Regions from separate parts of the Homo sapiens genome. Here region 2 is linked to region 1. Evidence: fine-mapped expression QTL. A gene starts in region 1. The other region holds a variant in brackets. All regions are shown on one strand. Distances are from middle to middle.

Region 1 (8,659 bases):
GAGGCCCCGAGAGGCCAGGAAGGCCTCTTTGTTGAAGGTTTCACTGGTCACCTCTGGAGAAGGAGAAGGGGAGGAGTTGAGGTGCTGGGCTAGAACCCCAGACATTTTTTTTTTTTTGAGACAGAGTCTTGCTCTATCACCCAAGCTAGAGTGCAGTGGCGTGATCACGGGACACTACAGCCTCGACCTCTTGGACTCAAACGATTCTCCCACCTCAGTCTCCCGAGAATTGTGACCACAAGCGAGTGCACCATGCCTGACTAATTTTTTCTATTTTTTGTAGAGACAGAGTCTATGTTGCCCAGGCTGATCTCAAATTCCTGGGCTCAAGTTGGCCTCCCAAAGTGCTGGGATTACGGGTGTGAACCATTGCCCGGCCTAGAACCCCAGCCTTGAACTCTCCCTAGCCTCCCGCGAGGACCCTGGTTCTAAGTCTGGTTCCAGTCAGGCCGGGAACTACCATTTCTGAGTGCCTCCAGCGTACCAGGCACCAAGCCAAGATAATCCTTGTAACAATTCCATGGGCCTTCTCCGTATCCCTCATGAGGACACGGAAGCTTCAAGAAGTAAAGTGGTTTGTTTAAGGTCACACTGCAGTTAGTGGTGGAGCTGGGAAGCAAGTAAGTGTTTGAATCCCTGTCCCCCAATCCCTGCACGCTCTCAGGGACCCAGACACTCAGGCCTCGGCTTCAGAGACCCTGTCTCCAGCCCCAAACACCCAGCCCCTGCCCTTGTTCCAGGGATCTAGGCTCTAGCCCCAGACACTCAGCCTTCAACTGCAGGACCCTGTTCCCAGACATCTAATTCCCAGTCTCAAAGACCTGGTCCCAGTTTCCCCCAACCATTCTGACCTCCTTATGGTACCTGCGGTGTAGGTAAAAGGCAGGGTTGCCAGTTCTCCTGCCCGCTCCATGAAGGCTGCAAGCCTTGGGCACCAAAATCGGTGACTCACATCATCTGGGCACCGCTGCCAGTCAGCCCGGAGACAAGCCTCTCCACAATACAAGACAGCACTACACTGGGGGCTGGGGACACAGCGGGTGGTGGGCACCTAGTGTTAACCTCTGTAGGTCCTGTCTGCTGTTCAACTGCCCAGCAGCTGCCCATATGTCACTCGGTCTGTTTGTCTTACACCCTCTAACCGCCTGTAACAGTCTGTATTGTTTCCTCTGCATCTTCTCATGTCCCTGCCTCTCCTTCTGTCTGCTAGGCGCCCCCCACCACCCTGCCTTCCTTCTATTTGCCTATTGGGGTCTTCCTCTCCCCCAGCTTTGGGGCTGCTCACCAAGGTGTCAGCTTCGCTTCAAAGCTGTGCCTGTGACACACATGGCAGGTTCGAGCACGAAGGGAAGCAAAGGTGAAGCCTGGCCGGGGACCCCATGTCCGCATTGGGGTTTTGGCTAACTTCACACCTAGCCTTGGGACCAAGCTCTCCAGCTCTCTAAATGCAGTTGGGGGGGAGATGGCATCAGGCTGGAGGAGGTGCTTGGGAATCCAGGGCCCGAGTCCTCCCCAGCCTCAGATACCAGATTTCTATACCGATGCAGCCGGGCATCTCCCACAGTAAGCTGTCGGGGCTTTCGGGGATCCCCAGAGCCCATGGGACAGGCCATGCTGTGACAGAGGAGAGCATAGGCCCAAGGAGCCAGGTCCTTGGTCCCTGAGCCCCAGCTTGCGGTTCCCTGGGCTCCATCCACTAGCAGATCAATGCCCAAGATGGTGCCATGCTCATCCGTCACAAGTAAGAGACAGGAAACGTGCAGGGGGGCAGCCTCTGGGGAAAGAGGGAAAAGTTGAGGTGGTAGGGGGCAGCGAGAGACAAATGTGGTCAGGGTCAGGAGTACCAAACTCAAATACCTACGGGGCTAGGCAAGTAACCTCACTGAGTAAAGGGCTCTGGGTAGAGAGGGCACGCTCCTTCTAAAGGGGACAGCTGCTACAGAGGACCAGAATGCGCTGCCATGCAGAAATGTAGGCCCACTGTCAGAGCTTGAGATTTTTCTTGGGAATGTGTAAATCCAGACTTCTGGATACTTTTTTTCTTGCAATGTTTAAACATTAAATTAAAAAAAAAAACCCCACTGTGGGTCAATAAAAACACCTTTTCAGGCCAGATTGGCCTGAAGGCCAGCACTCAGAACTAGTGGCAGGGGAGGGCTTCCGAAGGGAGGATGGCTGGGCAAGGGGTAGGGCAGGGCCAGCCCTGGGTTCTTACCACTCCTCTGTCCCTTCCTCTTCTGGGGTCTTGTTTCGTTCTCCACCCTGTCCTCTCGGCAGCCATCCTTGCCACCTCCTGCCTCCCGGGCAGCCTCCTCTGACTCTCCTGGAGGGTTTGTTTCCTGGGGGGACTCCCTGCTGGTAGGGGCTAGCTCCCGGTCCTCCTCTGGTTCCACCTTCTCTGTGCTGCCTGCACCCCCGTCCTCTCTCTTCTCTTCTTCTTCATCTTCCTCCTCTTCCTCCTCCCCTTCCTCCCCATCCTCTAGGCTGACAAAGCTGATGTAGGGGCTCAGGTCTCGCAGGTGGAGTGGAGGGTTGTCTCCCAGGAGCCAGGCAGTCCCCAGGCCTGGTCCAGGACCTGGTTCTGCCCCTTGCCCCAGGCTGATGCCCACACTATGGTTGGGCAGGACATGGAGCACCCAAAGGGCAGGGTCCTGGGGTAGCCTTCTGATCTGGGCCTCCAGCTGCCGGCAGCGGCCCTCAAGGCTAGTCCCTACAGCTCCACGCTCTGCCACAAACTTTCGGAACCAGCCGAAGAGAAGGGCAGTGAAATCAAGGAACTCATCCCGGTATCCAGACACAAACTCCATGTCTTCAGCGGCACAGGGCCCCGGCCCAGACTGAGCAAAAGAAGGGATATATGGTGAGGGACAGGAGAGCAATGATGGAGTTTGGGGCTGGGTCACAAATTGAGGGAGAGGGTAGGTTTGAGAGTCACTTAGGGTTGGATCCGTGGATATGCTAGGAGCGGAGAAGAGGATTTTTCAGGGCTGAGGATGGGAGTTTAGGGAGGAAAATGGGGGCTGGACTTGAAAGTGGGTGACCAGGGTTGGAGAAGACTACTCAGGGATGAGATGGTATTTGGGGCTTAAAATTGGAGAGTTCACACCCTCAAAAGCAGAGTTTAAATTAAGGCTAGAGAGGAGAGAGGGCTAATCCTATCGGGAACGGTTTGGTGGGGAGGGAAGCATTTTGGATGCGTCTGTGGGGTATGGGAGTGGGAGCGAGGGGGTTCCCTGGGCTCGGATCTGCGTGGCGGGCAGCCCCGGTAGACCTAGCCCCTCCCGGCCGCCCCACTCCTCCGGTACCTGCAGCCGCCACCACTTTTCGAAGGTAAATACCTCGCGGTGGAGGGTGCGCGGGTGCGGTTGTGACGTCAGGGCTGCCCGAGCCCTCGCCGGCTCAGCGGGCGGCCACGCCCCCCGGGCTCGGTGCGTCCGCGGGTGGCTGCCCCGCAGGTGCGCGCGGCCGGGGCTGGCGGCGACTCTCTCCACCGGGCCGCCCGGGAGGCTCATGCAGCGCGGCTGGGTCCCGCGGCGCCCGGATCGGGGAAGTGAAAGTGCCTCGGAGGAGGAGGGCCGGTCCGGCAGTGCAGCCGCCTCACAGGTCGGCGGACGGGCCAGGCGGGCGGCCTCCTGAACCGAACCGAATCGGCTCCTCGGGCCGTCGTCCTCCCGCCCCTCCTCGCCCGCCGCCGGAGTTTTCTTTCGGTTTCTTCCAAGATTCCTGGCCTTCCCTCGACGGAGCCGGGCCCAGTGCGGGGGCGCAGGGCGCGGGAGCTCCACCTCCTCGGCTTTCCCTGCGTCCAGAGGCTGGCATGGCGCGGGCCGAGTACTGAGCGCACGGTCGGGGCACAGCAGGGCCGGGGGGTGCAGCTGGCTCGCGCCTCCTCTCCGGCCGCCGTCTCCTCCGGTCCCCGGCGAAAGCCATTGAGACACCAGCTGGACGTCACGCGCCGGAGCATGTCTGGGAGTCAGAGCGAGGTGGCTCCATCCCCGCAGAGTCCGCGGAGCCCCGAGATGGGACGGGACTTGCGGCCCGGGTCCCGCGTGCTCCTGCTCCTGCTTCTGCTCCTGCTGGTGTACCTGACTCAGCCAGGTTAGCCGGGGGCGGGGCAGGGGACCCAGATTCCCCTGTCACGGGAAGGGGGTGAGTTGGGGAGGGGACACGAGGCCCACGGAGTTGAGTGGATGAAGGCAGCGGGGACAAGAGGAAAGCCAGCCAGCCGCCTGGGGTTGGGGACAGAGGCCCGGGGACGCCTGGCTCCGGGCGGGATTATGGATGTTGTCGGGGGCGTGATGATGTGTGGGTTGAGCCTGGCGCTCTGACCCTGGGTCCACCGAGAGGCTGTCATGGGGCTGTGGATTGGATGCCAGGGAACAGCGGAGTGGGGACCCTGGGCCTGGGAATGGGTGCCGACCACCTCCGTCCCGCGCAGGCAATGGCAACGAGGGCAGCGTCACTGGAAGTTGTTATTGTGGTAAAAGAATTTCTTCCGACTCCCCGCCATCGGTTCAGTTCATGAATCGTCTCCGGAAACACCTGAGAGCTTACCATCGGTGTCTATACTACACGAGGTAATTTTACCTGCCTCTGCGAGGGCAGCGCCTGGGCGGCCCCTCCTTGCAGGTGCCTCCAGGACCCTCTCTGGTCCAGCCTGAACTCCTTCCCGGCTCACCGAGCCCCATCTCCGGGTTCCGTTTGCTCTCATTCCCCGAAACTTCATGACTCCGTCTCACCTACTGGGGAGTTTCCCAGTCCCAGGAGAAAGGGCTCTTTCTTGGTGGCAACTTCACGCCTCTGGAATGAGGAAGGAGCCGGGGAAGGAAAGAAGGCGCCGCAGCTAAGCCCAGGTCTCTCCTCCGCAGGTTCCAGCTCCTTTCCTGGAGCGTGTGTGGGGGCAACAAGGACCCATGGGTTCAGGAATTGATGAGCTGTCTTGATCTCAAAGGTGAGACTTTTCCACTGCTCTTCAGGCTCTGCCTCCAGGGCTTAGCAGCTTCCACCTGACAGTTTTCTTTACCTGAGCCTTTTCCCCTGGGGCCGCACATTCCTAGAACCTTCTTCTGATCCTGTCCAAAGTACTTAGACTCGAGTCCCTGTTTGCCAAACGGGGTGATCATTCACCATCACCTTCATGAGTTTTGCCAATTCATTCTACCACGTGTGCTATTGTCTACTTATTAATATTTTTCTTGAAATCAAAGTACTATTTTATTTTATTTTTTTGAGATGGAGTCTCACTCTGTCACCCAGGCTGGAGTGCAGTGGCACGATCTTGGCTCACTGCAACCTCTGCCTCCCAGGTTCAAGAGATTCTCCTGCCTCAGCCTCCTGAGTAGCTGGGATTACAGGCGCGCACCACCAAGCCTGGCTAATTTTTGTATTTTTAGTAGAGACAGGGTTTCACCATGTTGGCCAGGCTGGTCTCGAACTCCTGGCCTTGTGATCCACCCGCCTCGGCCTCCAAAAGTGCTAGGATTACAGGCGTGAGCCACCACACCTGGCCTATTTTTCTTTTCCAATATTTTATTATGAAAATTTACACATATACAAAAGTTGAAAGAATGGCACACTGAATATCCAGTGCCTCCACCTAGATTCTACAATTTTATTTATATATGTATATTTTACATATTTACATAAACATATATTTTACACTATCAATTTTACAGCAATTACACGATATTTGCTTTATTAAGTATCCATCTATTCATTCTTCTATCCATCATCCATCACCTTATTTCTTGATGCATTTCTTTTTTTTTTTTTTTTTTTTTTTTAATGGAGTCTTGCTCTGTCGCCCAGGCTGGAGTGCAATGGTGCCCTCAGCTCACTGCAGCCTCCGCCTCCCAGGTTCAAGCAATTCTCCTGCCACAGCCTTCCGAGTAGCTGGGATTGCAGGTGCCCGCCACCATGCCCAGCTAATTTTTGTATTTTTTTAGTAGAGATGGGGTTTCACCGTGTTGGTCAGGCTGGTCTCAAACTCCTGACCTCAGGTGATCCACCTGCCTCAGCCTCCCAAAGTGCTGGGATTACAGGTGTGAACCGCAGTGCCCGGCCTCTTGATGCATTTCAAGGCAGATTGTGGACATCATTGCACTTCATCCCAAGACATTTCAGCATGTATATTAAGTAGAGTTCAATATTTTAATGCTTTTTTTTCTTTTGAGTTCAAATTTACATACAATGAAATGAATTACTTTTAAGTGTGCACAAACTAGTTTTGAAAACTTAAGTAGAGGCCAGGACGGTGGCTCACTCCTGTAATCCTAGCTCTTTGGGAGGTTGAGGCCGGTGGATCACCTGAGGTCAGGAGTTTGAGACCAGCCTGACCAACATGGTAAAACCCCATCTCTACTAAAAATACAAAATTAGCCAGGCATGGTGGCATGTGCCTGTAATTCCAGCTACTCAGGAGGTTGAGGCAGGAGAATCACTTGAACCTGGAGGCGGAGGTTGCAGTGAGCCGAGATCAGGCCATTGCACTCCAGCCTGGGCAACAAAAAAAAAGAAAGAAAACTTAAATAGTAAATTATCCTAAGCAATAATATCTGTGAAGTCACAAGTTTGATGCATTGGTTATATTTTTCTCTTAAAATAAATATACAACCATTAAAATACAAAAGGTTCTTCCATGTCCTAGCTAAAGTTTTGTAGGATCTGTGTCATCCATACTGCCTTTAAGTCTGCCTAGACCTCTATGATTTCCTTTCATCCTCCCAGGAACCCTGGCCCTTGGTACTACAATTATCCTCATTTTACAGCTGGAAGATATCACTTCCGGAGAGGTTAGGGACAAGGGGTGAGGTTACACAGCTACTTGAGGTTACACAGCTACTTTACAGCAGAGCTTGGAATCCAACCCTGGTCTTCTGATTTCCCAGTTCATGACACCCACTTGTCTCGTGGTTCGCTCACTTCCTTGTCCCCTACCTTTTCCGTCTGTCATCTGCCTTCCTCTTCTGGCCTTCAGCGTGATAACCTCCCTGACTCACTCTTCCCTCTGTTGGAGCTCAGAACATGACACTCCAAAACATGGCACCTTGGTAATTACGAAAACAGCAGAAGTAAGTAGCTCACTCTGCTCTGTTTTTCTGTGAGAGCTGGCCATAAAGGAATTCTCTAACTTCACGTGGAAGTAGGTCATAGGCTCTCATTTCAGATGGGTCCTGCCCTATACTTGGAGGCCAAGAAGAATCTGGACAGGCCTTGCTGGTCCCCCACCCCCCATTTATTGCCATTAGATCATACCCTTTTTGTCCAATCATACTTCTTTTTTTTTTTTGAGATGGAGTTTCGCTCTTGTTGCCCAGGCTGGAATGCAGTTGTGCAATCTTGGCTCACTGCAACCTCCACCTCCTGGGTTCAGGCGATTCTGCCTCAGCCTCCCATGTAGCTGGGATTACAGGCACATGACACCATGCCTGGCTAATTTTGTATTTTTAGTAGAGACTGGGTTTCTCCATGTTGGTCAGACTGGTCTCGAACTCCCGACCTCAGGTGATCCACCCACCTCAGCCTCCCAAAGTGCTGGGATTACAGGCGTGAACCACCGCGCCCGGCCAATCCAATCATACGTCTATACAGCTGTCCATTCTTCACAGCAAGCCTAAGCATAAAAATGCACTTTTCTCGGGTCTTTGTTTCTGAAGGTTCCTATGTCATGTAAAACTGTGATTAAATAAATGTTAGGCTTTTCTCTTGTTAATGTTTTTTATTTATAGGGGTATCAGCCTTGACCCTTGCGATGGGTGAGGAAAAGATATTACTTTTTCTCCCCTACACCTCTATCTGCTTTTTCACCTTGTCTCCTGATAGTCCTGATTCCTCATTTCTTTCCTTTCCAGAATGTGGACATGCTTACTCGGGGATTGTGGCCCACCAGAAGCATTTACTTCCTACCAGCCCCCCAATTTCTCAGGCCTCAGAGGGGGCATCTTCAGATATCCACACCCCTGCCCAGATGCTCCTGTCCACCTTGCAGTCCACTCAGCGCCCCACCCTCCCAGTAGGATCACTGTCCTCGGACAAAGAGCTCACTCGTCCCAATGAAACCACCATTCACACTGCGGGCCACAGTCTGGCAGCTGGGCCTGAGGCTGGGGAGAACCAGAAGCAGCCGGAAAAAAATGCTGGTCCCACAGCCAGGACATCAGCCACAGTGCCAGTCCTGTGCCTCCTGGCCATCATCTTCATCCTCACCGCAGCCCTTTCCTATGTGCTGTGCAAGAGGAGGAGGGGGCAGTCACCGCAGTCCTCTCCAGGTAAACTGGACCTTTGAACCCTCCCCCCAGGGACCCAGAGCCTTCCTGACAGGCATCCTGACCCAGTGGCTCTCAGGTGGCTGGAAACCTGGCCTTGGCACACAAGTATCAAGGTTGTCTGCACAAGGTTGACTCTGGGCCCTCTGAGGACAGTCAGTCGGGGACTGTAGACAGTGGAGAGGGAAGGAAGCCACCACAGGCACAAGGACTAGTGCTTGGAGCAACATCATGGAGAAGATGGCTAGAGCAAGCTAGTGGGAGATGAAGCTGTGGAGGGAGGTGAGGGCCAGTCATTCAATTCACAAATTTTCACTGAGCACCTACTGTGGGCCAGGTCATAGTGTTGATGTCTTCATCTGATTCCCTAGTTCAAGCTATCATCCCCCAAACACTGT
Region 2 (16,383 bases), 29 kb before region 1:
AGGTTGCAGTGAGCCGAGATGGCGCCATTGTACTCCAGCCTGGGTGACAGAGCGAGACTCTGTTTCAAAAAAAACAAAAAAGCAAAAAAGCAAAAAAACAAACAAACAAACAGTAGAATGTATAAATGAGGTATAGTCACATAATAGAATGTATAAGAAAAAAAGAAAACTACAGCTACACCTGATAATATGGGTGGCTCTCACAAACGTAATATGGAGCTAAAGAAGCCAGACACAGGCCAGGCGCGGTGGCTCACGCTCGTAATCCCAGCACTTGGGGAGGCCGAGGTGGGTGGATCACCTGAGGTCGGGAGTGCGAGACCAGCCTGACCAACATGGCGAAACCCCCATCTCTACTAAAGTAAATACAAAAATTAGCCAGGCGTGGTGGCTCATGCCTGTAACCCCAGCTACTCTGGAGGCTGAGGCATGAGAATCATTTGAACCTGGGAGGCGGAGGTTGCAGTGAGCTGAGATAGCGCCACTGCACTCCAGCCTGGGCAACAGCTCCGTCTCAAAAAAAAGCCAGACACATACTCTATCATTCCATTTGTGTAAAGTGCAAAATAAGCCAAACTCGTCTATGGGGTTAGAAGACAGAATAGTGGTTACGCTTGTTGGTGAAGTGATTCTGGGGTTCCGTGTGTGGTGAGAAGCATGTCTGGGCTTCTGGTAATGATCTGTTTCTTGACCTGGGCTCAGATGTGCTCACTTTGTAAAAGTTTGTTGAGCTGTGTACTAAGGATCTGGGTACTTGTCTGTGTGACTTAAATAAAAAGTTTTAAACCGTCAAAAAACAAAGTGCCAAAAGTCCTTCAATAGGGCATGGCGCGGTGGCTCACTCCTGTAATCCCAGCACTTTAGGAGGCCGAGGCGGGTGGATCACAAGGTCAGGAGATCGAGACCATCCTGGCTAACACGGTGAAACCCCATCTCTACTAAAAATACAAAAAAAAAAAATTTGCTGTGCGTGGTGGCGGGCGCCTGTAGTCCCAGCTACTCGGGAGGCTGAGGCAGGAGAATGGCGTGAACCCAAGAGGTGGAGCTTGTAGTGAACCGAGATCGCACCACTGCACTGCAGCCCGGGCGACACAGTGAGATTCCGTCTCAAAAAAAAAAAAAAGTCCTTCAATAGTTTTCTGTTGTACTTATAATAATAAAAATTCAAATGACTCCACTGTGGCTTTTCAGGGTGTTCCAGGCCTAGCCTCTGCCCTCCTCAGACCTCATCTCATTACATCTCACCTCACCGGCCACCTGTCTGATCCTCAGAAGTGTAGAGCTTGTTCCCACCTTAGGCTTTGTACTACCAGCCCCTAGTGTCTGCAACACTCACACCTTCTTCTTGTCATTTGGGTCTCAGTTCAGACATCACCTCATAGAGCCTGTCCCTGAAAATCCTATAAAAAGTGGCATCTGCTTTGCCTAGGAGCTCTTCATGCCAGCACCATTTCATTTTATTTTTATTTTTTACTTTTGAGACAGAGTTTCACTCTTGTTGCCCAGGCTGGAGTACAATGGTGCAATCTTGGTTCACTGCAACCTCCGCCTCTCGGGTTCAAGCAATTCTCCTGCCTCAGCTTCCTGAGTAGCTGGGACTACAGGCATGCGCCACCACGCCTGGCTAATTTTTGTATTTTTAGTAGAGACAGGATTTCTGCATGTTGGTCAGGCTGGTCGTGAACTCCTGACCTCGGTGATCCGCCTGCCTCAGCCTCCCAAAGTGCTGGGATTACAGGCATGAGCCACTGCGCCCGGCCGATGGTACCTACTTCTATCTGAAATTGCCTTGCCTAGTTCTATACTTCATTCAATGACTTTTTTATTTTTTATTTTCTTGAGACAAGGTCTTGCTCTGTTGCCCAGGCTGGAGTGCAGTGGCGCGTGGTCATAGCTCACTGCAATCTTTCATTTCTGGGCCCAAACTAGGACTACAGGCACACGCTGCCATTCCATGACTATTAATTGGGTGTCTGTTTAGTGCAAGGTGCTGGTCTAGCACTGGGTACATAGTGGCCAACAAAGCAGGCAGTGCTTGCTCTCGTGGGACTTCCAGCCTTGCTTCCGTGAGACTGGTGGCCTTACCAAAGGGAACACAAGCTTCAGGGAGAGCAGGAACCTGTCTGTGTCCCTGTGATATACAGCAGTGCTTATTTATTTGTTTATTTATGTATGAGATGGAGTCTTGCTCTGTCGCCCAGGCTGGAGCACAATGGCGCAATCTCGCCTCACTGCAACCTCTGCCTCCCGGGTTCTCCTGCCTCAGTCTCCCGAGTAGCTGGGATTACAGGCGCCCGCCACTATGCCTGGCTAATTTTTGTATATTTCTTTAAGTAGAGACGGGGTTTCACCATGTTGGCCAGGCTGGTCTTGAACTCCTGACCTCAGGTGATTGGCCCGCCTCGGCCTCCCAAAGTGTTGGGATTACAGGCGTAAGCCACCATGCCCACCGGGTGGTGCTTCTTGAGAGTGACTCTGGGCACAGAGGTGGAGGGAAGGCAGCTGTGAATGCATATTTGGGGAAGGCAGACTCAGGGAGCTCCGCTGAAGCAAGCTGGTTAGATGGGGCAGAGGAGTGTGGGGAGACAGGGGTGGTTCAGGTTGCAGAGGGAGCACCCCGTGACAATGGCTAAGTGTGTCAGCCTGAGAGGAGTGTGACTCTCAAAGAGAGTTGAGTTTAGAGCGATAGAGTAGAGTACAGCAGCCAAGAATCCATGCAGGAGGAGGGAGTAGAAGAAAAGATACTAGAGAGTAAGAGGGGATTGTTGGTTAAAGGAGAGGTATCCTCTTTTAGCAAATAGAGGTGTGACCAGCGAGGTGTGACCAGCAAAAGGGACCAAGGGGAGCTCTCCCCTGGAGAATGTCATTAGCCAACTGTCCTGAGAAGTGGGGAACTGTGCTGGGTAGATCTTTTGTCTTTATCGCATGAAGATATTAAACGAGGTTGACCATCCCAAAGTTTCCCTGAATGGGTGGAGAGTTGGAAGATGGGGGTTAGTAAATTGGGGAAATCTGTGTCTCCTTTTCCTCCACTTCTGACAGATCCTAGTCTTGGCCAGGCGTGGTGGCTCACATCTATAATTCTAGCACTTTGGGAGGCTGAGGCAGGAGGATCACTTGAATCCAGGAGTTTGAGACCAGTCTGGGCAACACAGAGATACTCCGTCTCTACAAAAAATGTAAGCTGGGGCGGTGGCTCACATCTGTAATCCCAGCACTTTGGGAGGCCGAGGGGGGCGGATCACCTGAGGTCAGGAGTTCGAGACCAGCCTAGCCAACGTGGCGAAACCCTGTCTCTACTGAAAATGCAAAAATTAGCTGGGTGTGGTGGCACGTGACCGTAATCCCAGCTACTCAGGAGGCTGAGGCAGGAGAATTGCTTAAACCCAGGAGACAGAGGTTGCAGTGAACGGAGATGGCGCCACTGCACTCCAGCCTGGGCGACAGAGCGAGACTCCGTCTCAAAAAAATAATAATAATAAAAATAAATAAAATATTTAAAAGTTAGCTGGGTGTGGTGATGCCCACCTGTGGTTCCAGCTGCTCGGAGGCTGAGGTGGGAGGACTGCTTGGGCCCAGGAGGTTGGGGCTACAGTGAGCCATGTTCGCACCACCACACTCCAGCCTGGGCAACAGAGAGAGACCCTGTCTCAAAAAAAAAAAAAAACAAAAAACAAACACAAAAACCAACCCCCACCTCCGCCCCTGGCAAATAGATTCTCATCTCCCGGAAGACGACTTGAGGGCATCCTCCCTGCCATACTGACCTAAGTTCTGAGTTTATCCTTAGCAGTCCGCACAGATTGGGCTTCCAGAAATGTGGGGTGAGAGTGAATGGACGTGGAGGCAAGCGAGGGTGACTGATCCGTGAGGGCAGTCCCTGGCTCTGGGTAATTTCACTGCGCCCCACCCTCATGCCTGTTATTATCCTGCCCCGATGACGTCTCTGACAACCAGCTGCTCCTTCTGCCTCGACCATTGTAGTGAGGTTTTCCCAGCATCTGCTCAACAGTGGGGACAGGGAGGACAGGCAGGACATGCTCCCTACCCGGTAGGGGAGCTCTTTAGAGCAGTGAGGCTCTCGTCCTTTCTGTGCCCCACAGACATTCAGCTTGGGACCCTGGGGCTCCTCCAGGACTGACTCCAGAGGGCTGCTAGCCCCCACGAAGCCATTGCCATCCTCTCCCAAGCAACCATTCTTATTCCTCTCTCCCTCTCCCTCCTGTTCAGAACCCCTTAGGTGGCACCCAGCCAGCTGGCCCGGGCTCCCCTGCCAGCCTTCTCACCATTAGGCCCCCGCCAATGAAGCCGCCCATGAGCCAGACTTGCAAGCTGAGATGGTTGGTGTTGGTCCAGGAGGTCTCCCCATTAGGTACCAGCAGGAGGGCGTTGGCCACAATGCAGACGAGGCAGAGGGTAATGAGGGAGAGCCCCACACAGCGGGCACATTTTCCCGTACACATGGTGAGGTGTCAGGAAGGACAGGCGGTGAGTGAAAGTAAGCCAGTGGTTCCCAGGTCCAGAGGAAAACAAGCCTGGAGCACGGAGCAAAGTTCAGACAGAGGCGTGGCAGAAACTGGCAGGATCAGAATGATAAGGGAGAGAGGCACAGGATGTGGGCCCTGAGGAGGCAGAGGCGGAGGAGCTGCAGCCCTGAGGTGAAGGGAGGATGTGGTGCTGGACAAGGTGGGGGCTATGGACACATTACCCTGGGTTAGTGCCTTCCTGTTTTTTCTGCACAGCTCCACAGCCCCTCTGTTGGTTCCATACCTGCTTTGCAACTTAGCCAAGCCCCTTCATGTCTCTTAAGTCTCAGTTGCCACTTGTGTCTGGGCACGGTGGCTCACACCTGTAATCCCAGCACTTTGGGAGGCCGAGGAGGGTGGATCACCTGAGGTCAGGAGTTTGAGACCAGCCTGGCCAACGTGGTGAAACCCCGTCACTACTAAAAATGCAAAAGTTATCTGTGCATGGTGGCGGGCACCTGTAATCCCAGCTATTCGAGAGGCTGAAGCAGGAGGATCACTTGAACCTGGAAGGTGGAGGTTGCAGTGAGCTGAGATTGTGCCATTGCACTCCAGCCTGGGTGACAAGAGTGAAACTCTGTCTCGAAAAATAAATAAATAAGTAAATAAAGTGACAAGAATGAAACTCTGTCTCAAAAAGTAAATAAATAAATAAATAAATAAATAGATAAATAAATAAGTGATGCCACTTGCCTTGTGGGCTACTTGTGAGGATTAAATGGGACAACCTGAGAAGTATTTTGTAAACTAGGAAGCACAGAGCAGATGTGTGGTGGCCTCTTCGTTTCTGCCAGCCTCTCAGGCAGCATTCTTCCCAGGGAGAAATTAAAGAGGTGATTGTGGGCTCTTATTGTCCTTGCATTTCGTCTTCCTGGTATTTGATTATTGATGTCTCCTCCTCTTGAGGCCACTGCCTGTCTCTCAGGGTGGGCTCGGGACCTAGGCCTCATTGATGAGAGCGTTCTATCCTGCTAGCCTCGGTGTTTGATTTAGCAACAGCCATGCGATCTGAGCCAACTCTGTGAGAATCAGCTTCTGCCATTTTTCCATTCTGAGGTCAAAGAAGTTCTGTTTTTGTTGGGGTGCTGCAGTTTCCTTGATAACTTCTTTTTTTTTTGAGACGGAGTCTCACTCTGCCGCCCAGGCTGGAGAGCAGTGGCGTGATCTTGGCTCACTGCAACCTCCGCCTCCTGGGTTCAAGCGATTCTCCTGCCTCAGCCTCCCAAGTAGCTGGGATTACAGGCGCCCACCACCACACCCAGCTAATTTTTGTATTTTTAGTAGAGACGGGGTTTCACCATGTTGGCCAGGCTGGTCTCAAACTCCTCACCTCAAATGATCCACCTGCCTCAGCCTCCCAAAGTGCTGGGATTACAAGCATGAGCCAAGCCACCCAGTCGACTTCTTTTTTTTTTAATTAAAAAAATGTTTTTGAGACCAGGGTCTCCCTTTGTTGCCCAGGCTGGTGTGGAGTGGATCATGGCTCCCTGCAGCCCTGACCACCTGGGCTCAAGTGATCCTCCCACCTCAGCCTCCCGAGTAGCTAGGACTATAGGTGTGTGCCACCACACCTGGCTAATGGTTTTTTGTTGTTTTTTTTTTGAGATGGAGTCTTGCTCTGTCACCCAGGCTGGAGTTTAGTGGTGTGATCTCGGCTCACTGCAACCTCTGCCTCCTGGGTCTCAGAAGCAAACAGGAGAGTGAAGGCCCCCACAGAATGAGCCCTAGCTCAAGTAGGATGTGGGAGTGCCATGAAGAGATGAGGGTAGCAGGAAGGGCTGCAGGGCTTCAGAGGGTATGCAATGAGGCTGTCACCTGGAAAGTGTCACCAGCCAGTGGCCCCTGATGCAGCCCCTCCTTGCGGCCCACTCAGACCACTACAGAAATGTGGAAAATGGAGAAAAGCCAGAATCTCTGCTATTTATAAGACAGAGGAACTGGATTGAGAAAAATACATGGAGAATTTACCTCTTGAATCAGAGGATGCCTGAAAAAGAAAATACTTTGAACCTCCCCAACTATTTGTCTCTGACTCATAGGTAATTATGATGACTGATACATTTGGTTTTGCTTCTGTTGGCATGTTTAATGCTTTAAACAACATTTCCATATTGCTTCTGATGTTTTCTGT[T/C]CCTCTTCTTTTTTGTTTTTTGAGACAGAGTTTTGCTCTTGTTGCCCAGGCTGGAGTGCAGTGGTGCGATCATGGCTCACTGCAACCTCCACCTCCCAAGTTCAAGCAATTCTCCTGCCTCAGCCTCCCGAGTAGCTGGGATTATAGGCATGCGACACCACGCCCAGCTAATTTTGTATTTTTAGTAGAGACGGGGTTTCTCCATGTTGGCCAGGCTAGTCTCGAACTCCCGACCTCAGATGATCCCCGCCTCGGCCTCCGAAAACGCTGGGATTACAGGCATGAACCACTGCGCCCAGCCTCTGTCCCTTTTCTTTAAAGATTTTACATTATCCTTTTTTTTTTTTTTTTGAGACAGGGTCTCTGTCACTCAGACTAGAGTGCCATGGTAAGATAATCATGGCTCGCTGCAGCTATGACCTCCTAGCTCAAGCTGTCTTCCCACTTCAGCTTCCTTAGTAGCCAGGATTACAGGCCCACACCACCACACTCAACTAATTTAAAAAATTTCTTTTGGCCGGGCGCAGTAGCTCACGCCTGTAATCCCAGCACTTTGGGAGGACAAGGTGGGCAGATCATGAGGTCAGGAGATCGAGACCATCCTGGCTACCGTGGTGAAACCCTGTCTCTACTAAAAATACAAAAAAAATTAGCTGGGTGTGGTGGCAGGCACCTGTAATCCCAGCTAGTCGGGAGGCTGAGGCAGGAGAATTGCTTGAACCCGGGAGATGGAGGTTGCAGTGAGCCGAGATTGCACCACTGGACTCCAGCCTGGGTGACAGAGGAAGACTCCATCTAGAAAAAAAAAAAAAAGATACAAGGAAAAGGGTCACATTGGATCCCACCCTAGATCACCTGACCCCCAGCCAACTCCTATGTGTGTATCAGTGAAATAAATGCTTATATTTATTTGACACTAAGACTTCGTCGAGGGGGATGGTTTGTTGCCCAGTAACAAGTTCCTAACACAGACCCCCTTATCTAGGCCAGGGCTGGTTGATTGAGGAACAAGTAGCTGACCCAAAGGCAGACATGTAGCCAGCGACCTGTGAGGTCTCTCGAGGTGAGAACTCCATCCAACAGAGGTACACTGACTGGATAATGACCAATCCACCGACTGGATCTTCATGATTGGGAAATGTGTCTGTGAGACAAGCTGAGACAGTCATCAGAGAGTGGGGTGGCTTCAAACTGAGAGTTGTATGCAAGAAAGAAGCAATCAAAAGCCAGAGGCAACTGACACCAGAAATAAGCAGAAGTCACAGCAAGAGAAGTGTATGGAGAATAGTTACTCTGAAACAGCGCCAGAGGGAGAAGCACAGGCACTGGAAAACTCTGGTTCCTCAGGAGGTGGCCGATGAGAGGTTGTCACCAGCACTAATGTTGAACTACCAGAGCAACTGTCATATCCCGAATAGTGGCCCTTCCAACCGTGGACCTGAAGAGGGGATTCAGCCATTGATCTGATGGACAGAGAGCAGGGCCAAGAGCTGGCCACCTATTTGTCTACAAGTTGCTCAAGCTGATTCTGAGAGATGGTGCCTCTTTTTTATTTTTTTTTAAACAGAGTTTCACTCTTATTGCCCAGGCTGCAGTGCAGTGGCGTGATCTCGGCTCACCGCCACCTCCGCCTCCCGGGTTCAGGAGACTCAAGTAGTTGGGATTACAGGTGCCCGCCACCACGCTTGGCTCATTTTTGTATTTTTTGTGGAGATGAAGACAGGGTTTCTCCATGTTGGCCAGGCTGCTCTCGAACTCCTGATCTCAGGTGATCCACCCACCTCGGTCTCCCAAAATGCTGGGATTACAGGTGTGAGCCACTGCGGCCAGCCAAATGGTGTCTGTTTTGAGGATGAATAAAGAGAAAAAAAATAGTTGTGTGGGTGGGGTGGTCCACAGGCATTCATTACATTATTTTTATACAATTCTGGATGAATGAAATAATGTTAATAATGTTAACAAAACATTATAGGGATTCTGAAAAATTTTCTCAAAACCAGGGAAGGGCAAATCAACCTGAAGACTGAAAGAAACAGAATCCTCTGGAGGAACATTTACTATAGGATTTGGAAGAGATTTCCAGGAAGATTTTTGATGACATCACTAGAATTCTCCTGGAACTAGGAACAGAATAACTTAAGAAAGAAAAGGCTGGCCGGGCGCGGTGGCTCACGCCTGTAATCCCAGCACTTTGGGAGGCCAAGCTCGGTGAATCACCTGAGGTCAGGAGTTTGAGACCAGCCTGGCCAACATGGCGAAACCCCATCTTCACAAAAAATACAAAAATTAGACAAGTGTGATGGCAGGCACCTGTAATCCCAGCTACTCAGGAGGCTGAGGCAGGAGAATCGCTTGAACCCGGGAGGTGGGGGTTGCAGTGAGCCGAGATCGCACCATTGCACCCCAGTATGGGCAACAGAGCAAGACTCCATCTCAAAAAAAAAAAAAAAAAAAAGGTCCAGGCTCAGTGGGTCACGCTTGTAATCCCAGCACTTTGGGAGGCCGAGGCGGGCAGATCACCTGAGGTCAGGAATTCGAGACCAGCCTGACCAACATGGGGAAACCCCGTCTCTACTAAAAATACAAAAATTAGCTGGGCATGGTGGCGGGTGCCTGTAATCCCCGCTACTCAGGAGGTTTAGGCAGGAGAATCGCTTGAACCCGGGAGGTGGAGATTGCAGTGAGCCAAGATCACGCCATTGCGCTTCAGCCTGGGTGACAGAGTGAGACTCTGGCTCAAAAAAAAAAAAAAAAAAATTCAGGAAACTGGCTTCTCCTAAGAACAAGAATAGAACTGGTGGAAGTGACACCACAGTTAAAACATCTGCACTAGGAGAAGACGTCACTGAGCGCAGATAGATCCACTCAGGTCAGTGGGTTGAAAGTTATACTGCACGGCAGGTAAAATATTAAAAGTCAGCTGACCATAGATTCATCCTGACAAAATATCTGAATTAAAGGATACATCTAGGCAGAATTTAAAAAGGCTACTTAGAAAGAAACAATAGTTGGTGTGGCCAGAGTCTTCTCTGAAATACTGAATGTCAGAGGACAAAGGAGTAAGGCAGCTGTGTCCACCAAAAAAGGTAGAACTATCATATACATGTCTAAGTTGCATTTTGTATGTTAAGGGCAACACAATTGCATTTCTGAGAATGTTTGGATTTCAAAATAACACTTTGGCTCCTTTTTTTTAGAGAAATTGTGTTGACTCACCAAGAGATGAAGTAAAATAAAAACCCCAAAATGGGGAAGTCTTGACGTAAGTCTAAATAAATTTCATATATCTGGTTACAAAACTGGATGCACATTTTGGAAAAAAATATTTTTCTTCTCTTTTGTTTTGAGTCAGAGTCTTGCTCTGTCATGCAGGCTGGAGTGCAGTGGCGTCATCTTGACTCTGCAACCTCAGCCTTCTGAGTTCAAGCGATTCTCCTGCCTTAGCCCCCCAAGTAGCTGGGATTACAAGCATGGGCCACCAGGCCTGGCTAATTTTTATATTTTTAGTAGAGACTAAGTTTCACCATGTTGGAGGGTGGTCTTGAACTCCTGACCTCAAGTGATCCACCTGTCTTGGCCTCCCAAAGTGCTGGGATTACAGGTATGAGCCACCACAACCCGGCCAGAGCCATTGTGCCCAGTCTCATTTTTTTTTAAAGACAGTGTCTCACTCTGTTGTCCAGACTGGTGTGCAGTGGCATGATCTTGGCTCACTGCAAACTCTATCTCCTGGGCTCAAGTGATCGTCCTGCCTCAGCCTGCCAAGTAACTGGGACTACAGATGTTCACCACCCACCATGCTTGTCTAATCTTTTTGTGTGTATATATGTAAATATATATATATATATTTTTTTTGAGACAGAGTTTCACTCTTGTTGCCCAGGCTGGAGTGCAATGGCGCAATCTCAGCTTACTGCAACTTCTGCCTCCCAGGTTCAAGCGATTCTCCTGCCTCAGCCTCCCTAGTAGCTAGGATTACAGGCATGTGCCACCACGCCCGGCTAATTTTGTATTTTTAGTAGAGACAGGGTTTCTCCATGTTGGTCAGGCTGGTCTCAAACTCCCGACCTCAGGTGATCCGCCCACTTCGGCCTCCGAAAGTGCTGGGATTACAAGTGTGAGCCACCGAGCCCAGCCATCATTTTGTATTTTTTGTAGAAATGGGGTTTCATTTTGTTGCCCAAGTGGTCTTGAACTCCTGGGCTCAAGAAATCTGCACACATAGGCTTCCCAAAGTGTTGGGATTACAGGCGTGAGCCACTGCACCTAGCCCCGTAAAAATTTCTTTTGAAGTGGCCGGGCGTGGTGGCTCACGCCTGTAATCCCAGCACTTTGGGAGGCCGAGGTAGGCGGCTCACCTGAGGTCGGGAGTTTGAGACCAGCCGGACCCACATGGAGAAACCCCATCTCTACTAAAAATACAAAATTAGCTGGACTTGGTAGCGCATGCCTGTAATCCCAGCTACTTGGGAAGGCTGAGGCAGGAGAATCGCTTGAACCTGGGAGGTGGAGATTGCAGTGAGCCAAGATCGCGCCATTGCACTCCAGCCTGGGCAAGAGCAAAACTCTGTCTCAAAAAAAAAAAAAAAAAAAAAAATTCTTTTAAAGGGCAGCTGTATAATGTAAATTCTAAAAATGATATTAATACTATTAAATATGTCATTATTGCTTGCCATACTCTGGGTCCATTGTAAGGAACTATACCAGGTAACAGAAAACCCAACTCTATTGCAACAAAAAGGGAATTTATTGGTTCAAGCAATCAAAACATCCAGTAGGACTGAAGTAGGACTAACTGCAGGTGCAGTTTGGTCCAGAAGTTCAGGATGTCATCAGTGTTCTTGTTTCTCTGCCATTCTCTCTGCTGTTCCTTTTTTTGGCTTTGACTTCCTCCTTAAGTGGGATCTTCCTCCTGACAGTAGTATTAGCTGCAGCAGTTCAGACCTTATGTCTTTACACCCTACCACCAGGAGGAAGAGAATCTCCTCGCATAGCTTTCCCTGAGTAGAGAGGAAGTTTCTTTCCCATTTACCCCAGAAAATTTCTCCTTGGTGCAGACTGGGTTCTATGTCTGTCCCTTACACGGATCACTGTGGCCAGAGGGTAGAACATGCTGTATGAGTCTGTTCTCACGCTGCTAATAAAGACATACCCGAGACTGGTACTTTATAGAGGAAAGAGGTTTAATTGACTCACAGTTTAGCATGGCTGGGGAGGCCTTAGGAAACTTACAATCATGGCGGAAGGGGAAGCAAACATGTCCTTCTTCACATGGAGGCATTCCAGCACAGGGGGTGTTGTCAATTCTGTCTAAGCCACCAGGCTGGGAAATTAAGGGCAGTATTAGGAAGGAGGAAAGACAGAATGAATGATGGGGAGGCATCCAGCGAATATCCTCTCCAGGGAATCTGTCTAAACTCTGTGGCTCCGTACTCACTGCCCATAGCTGAGTAGCACATGCTTGACCTAGTATGTGACAGAGATAGTGAGTTAGTCCCAGTCTTCTGCTTTTATTATAGTAGCAGACTTTGTAGTCTGCTGCTAAAGGCACATGGCTGCTAAGCTAGAGACTATATTTTCGGCCAAGCCCGGTGGCTCACGCCTGTAATCCCAGCACTTCGGGAGGCTGAGGCGGGTGGATCACCTGAGGTCAGGAGTTTGAGACCAGCCTGGCCAACATGGTGAAACCTCATCTCTACTAAAAATACAAAAATTAGCCAGGCGTGGTGTCTCACGTCTGTAATCCCAGCACTTTGGGAGGCCAAGGCAGGTGGATCACCTGAGGTTGGGAGTTTGAGGCCAGCCTGACCAATATGGAGAAACCCCATCTCTATAAAAATACAAAATTAGCCGGGCGTAGTGGCACATGCCTGTAATCCCAGCTACTCCGGAGGCTGAGGCAGGAGAATCGCTTGAACCTGGGAGGCGGAGGTTGCAATGAGCTGAGATCATGCCACTGCATGCACTCTAGCCTGGGCGACAGAGCGAGACCCCGTGTCAAAACAACAACAACAACAAAAAAACCCTATTTTTTCTAACTTCTTTTGTAGCTGTGGCCATGCGTTGTCACATAGTTATGGCTTATGGGAAGGAGTGTAAATGATTTGATCAACTTTGTTTCCTTTTTGTGAGAATGCTGCTAGTTGATCTTACCTTACTGCAATGTTGGTTTTAAGGCATAATGCAGATGTTTTCTGTAAGTTTTATGAGATCCCCACAACAAAGTATTCAATTTATTTATAATTTCAGCTTTTATTTTAGATTTGGGGGTACATGTGCAGGTTTGTCATAAGGGTATATTGTGTGATGTTGAGGTTTAGGAACATGATTAATCCTGTCACCCAGGTACTGAGCATAGGACCCAGTAGTTTTTTTGGTTTTTTGTTTTTTTGAGACAGCGTCTCACTTTGTCACCCAGGCTGGAGTGCAGTGGCACGATCTCGGCTCACTGCAACCTCGGCCTCCTGGGTTCAAGCGATTCTCCTGCCTCAGCCTCCCAAGTAGCTGAGATTACAGGCGCATGCCACCACATCTGACTAATTTTGGTATTTTTAGTAGAGATGGCGTTTCACCATGTTGACTAGGCTGGTCTCAAACTCCTGACCTCAGGTGATCCACCCGCCTCAGCCTCCCAAAGTGCTGGGATTACAGGCATGAGCCACCGCACCCGGCCAGAACCCAGTAGTTTTTTCAACCCTTTCCCCACTCTCTCCCTTCCCCTCTGGAGGCCCCAGTGTCAATTGTTTACATCCTTATGTCCATGTGCACCCAGTGCTTAGCTCCCACTTGTAAGTGAGAACATGCAATATTTGGTTTTCAGTTCGTGTGTTAATTGGCTTAGAATAATGGCCTCCAGCTGTATCCATATTGCTGCAAAGGACATGAATTTGTTCTTTTTTAATGGCTGCAACAATCAACTTTGGTGGTAGACTTTAAGGAATGAGCTTCCCTTTCCTCATCCTGCTGGCTGGAATGTAGGCCAGGAGTTGAACCGTTTGGACTCTTTGGTGAGGACAACCCTTAGAGATGGTGGAACAACAATATCAGGATTCTGGGCTCCCGAACAACCTAGAAGAGCAGGAGTGCCGCTGTGGGCCACCTGCCTCCTTACTATTTATTTATTTATTTATTTTGTGAGACGGAGTCTCGCTCTGTTGCCCAGGCTGGAGTGCAGTGGTGCGACCTTGGCTCACTGCAATCTCTGCCTCCTGGGTTCAAGCAATTCTCCTGCCTCAGCCTCCCAACTAGCTGGGATTGCAGGTGGGCACCACCACACCTGGCTAATTTGTGTATTTTTAGTAGAGACGGGGTTTCACCATGTTGGCCAGGCTGGTCTCGAACTCCTGACCTCAAATGACCCACTCCCCTCGGCCTCCCAAAAAGTGCTGGGATTACAGGCGTGAAGCACCGGGCCCGGCAGCCTCGTTACTATTTTGTGAGCAAGAAATAAACTTCTACTCTATTTGAGACATTGGTAATTTCAGTCTTCGTTTAAAGCAGTGGAAGTTACCAGAAATTTGTAAACTGTACCATAAGCTGAGTGTCCAGGCCAATTAGATTTGCTTTCTCCTAGGATATAAACTGGGAAAAATGGAAAATTTTCCAGTGGTTTCTAGACTTTAAATTGGTTATGAGAATACTGTGAAATTGAGTCAGTGACGTTTATTTCTTTTCTTTTCTTTTTTTTTTTTTGAGACAGAGTCTCACTCCCAGGCTGGAGTGCAGTGGTGCAATCTGGGCTCACTGCAACCTCCACCTCCCGAATTCAAGTGATTCTCCTGCCTCAGCCTCCCAAGTAGCTGGGATTACAGGCGCGCATCACCAAGCCCAGCTAATTTTTTGTATTTTTAGTAGAGATGGGGTTTCATCGTGTTGGTCAGGCTGGTCTCGAACTCCTGACCTCAGGTGATACACCCACCTCGGTCTCCCAAAGTGTTGTGATTACAGGTGTGAGCCACCTGCTTGGCCTATTTGTTAAATATTTAGCATATTTCAAATTTTTTTTTTGATACAGAATCTTACTCTGTCACGCAGGCTATAGTACAGCAGTGGTGTGATCTTGGCTCACTAAAACCTCAGCCTCCTGAGTAGTTGGGACTACAGCCATGTGTCACCACGCCTGGCTAATTTTTTGTATTTTTAGTAGAGATGGGGTTTCACCATGTTGGCCAGGCTGGTCTCGAACTTCTGGCCTCCAGTGATCTGCCCGCCTCGGCCTCCCAAAGTGCTGGGATTACAGGTGTGAGCCACTGCACCTGGCCAATCAATTCTAAGTCACGTGTTTTAGCACATTTTATTTTTCCCAAAATTAGGATATATTGTACAATCCATGGTGTCATACAACATGGTAGGTTTTGCCTACACTTGTGAGAACCCAGTCGTAGCTGTTCGTATTGTTATCACCTCAGCTGAGTTGTGAACCCTACTGGTACTACACTTCTTGAGTTGAATTGCTGTTTATAATGTCTTCAAATAACACACAGTACCAATTACATTAGCACTGTCCCAAATTAAATACTTACATATAAATCTAACAAAATACGTATAAGATCTACATGAAGAAAACTACAAAACTCTGATGAAAGACATCGAAGAAGATATAAATAAATGGAGAGAGTCCATGTTCATATATAGGAACACTCAACATTGTCAAGATGTCAGTTCTTTCCAAATTGATCTGTATCTTCAACACAATCCCAATCAAAATGCCAGAAAACCATTTCATGGATATTTACAAACTGATTCTAAAGTTTGTCTGGAGGGGCGAAAGACCCAGAATAGCCAACACAATATTGAAAGAGAGCAAAGTTGGAAGATTGACACGACCCAGCATCAAGACTTACTACAAAGCTCCAGTAGGGCTGGGCATGGTGGCTCATGCCTGTAATCCTAGTGCTTTGGGAGGGTGAAGCGGGAGGATTGCTTGAGGGCAGGAGTTGCAAGTTACAGTGAGCTGTGATTGTGCCACTGCACTCCAACCTGGGTGACAGAGCAAGACCCTGTCTCTAACAAAAACAAACAAAAGGCCAGGTGTGGTGGCTCACACCTGTAATCCCAGCACTTTAGGAGGCTGAGGTGGGTAGATCCCTTGAGCCCAAGAGTTCAACACTAGCCTGGACAACATGGTGAAACCCTGTCTCTATTAAAAAAAATAAATAAATAATAATAATAATAATAAACCAAAACCGCCGGGCGTGGTGGCTCACGCCTGTAATCCCAGCACTTTGGGAGGCTGAGGGTGGTGGATCACCTGAGGTCAGGAGTTCGAGACCAGCCTCAACATGGAGAAACCCAGACTCTACTAAAAATACAAAATTAGCTGGGCATGGTGGTGCATGCCTGTAATCCCAGATACTTGGGAGGCTGGGGCAGGAGAATCACTTGAACCTGGGAGGCGGAGGTTGTGGTGAGCCAAGATCTTGCCATTGCACTCCAGCCTGGGCAACAAGAGCGAAAGAAACTCCATCTTAAGGGAGAAAAAAAAAAAAAAGTAAAAGGCTACAAGTATATGACTTTCTGGAAAAAAACAGAACTCTGAAGACAGTGAAAAGGTCAGTGGCAGCCAGGGGTTGGTAGGGAGGGGAAGGAGGAATAAACAGAGCACAGAGGATTTTAGGGCAGTGAAACTTCTTTGTATGATACTATATATATACTGGTGCGTCATTATATATTTGTCTAAACCCATGGAACGTGCAACACCAAGAGCGAATCCTAATGTACACTATG

Which allele goes with the higher level. Alleles are on the strand shown, and positions count from the first base shown. SD is a standard deviation of normalised expression in the study named.
With allele T in place of C in region 2, the expression in macrophages of the gene that starts at base 3,523 in region 1 is higher (moderate effect, 0.49 SD a copy in Nedelec 2016).

Evidence for each region. PIP is the estimated chance that this variant, and not a neighbour inherited with it, causes the effect.
Region 2: its variant is fine-mapped to the expression of ZMYND15 in macrophages (Nedelec 2016, PIP 0.95).

Annotation. Positions count from the first base shown.
Region 1 is chr17:4,734,697-4,743,355 of GRCh38, reverse strand. ZMYND15 (zinc finger MYND-type containing 15) reads right to left here and starts at 3,523. Exons shown (of 14, transcript NM_001136046.3): 1 at 3,306-3,523; 2 at 2,216-2,837; 3 at 1,540-1,774; 4 at 1,286-1,441; 5 at 865-1,025; 6 at 1-53. The coding sequence starts at 2,807. It overlaps CXCL16 (C-X-C motif chemokine ligand 16), which reads left to right and starts at 3,428. Exons shown (of 6, transcript NM_001386809.1): 1 at 3,428-4,095; 2 at 4,436-4,574; 3 at 4,866-4,948; 4 at 7,848-8,264. The coding sequence starts at 4,017. RefSeq lists a silencer at 3,337-3,556 and enhancers at 3,105-4,009, 4,010-4,915.
Region 2 is chr17:4,760,003-4,776,385 of GRCh38, reverse strand. It overlaps TM4SF5 (transmembrane 4 L six family member 5), which reads right to left and starts at 4,500. Exons shown (of 5, transcript NM_003963.3): 1 at 4,287-4,500. The coding sequence starts at 4,463. RefSeq lists a silencer at 12,160-12,322. The variant T/C (reference allele first, on the strand shown) is at 6,658.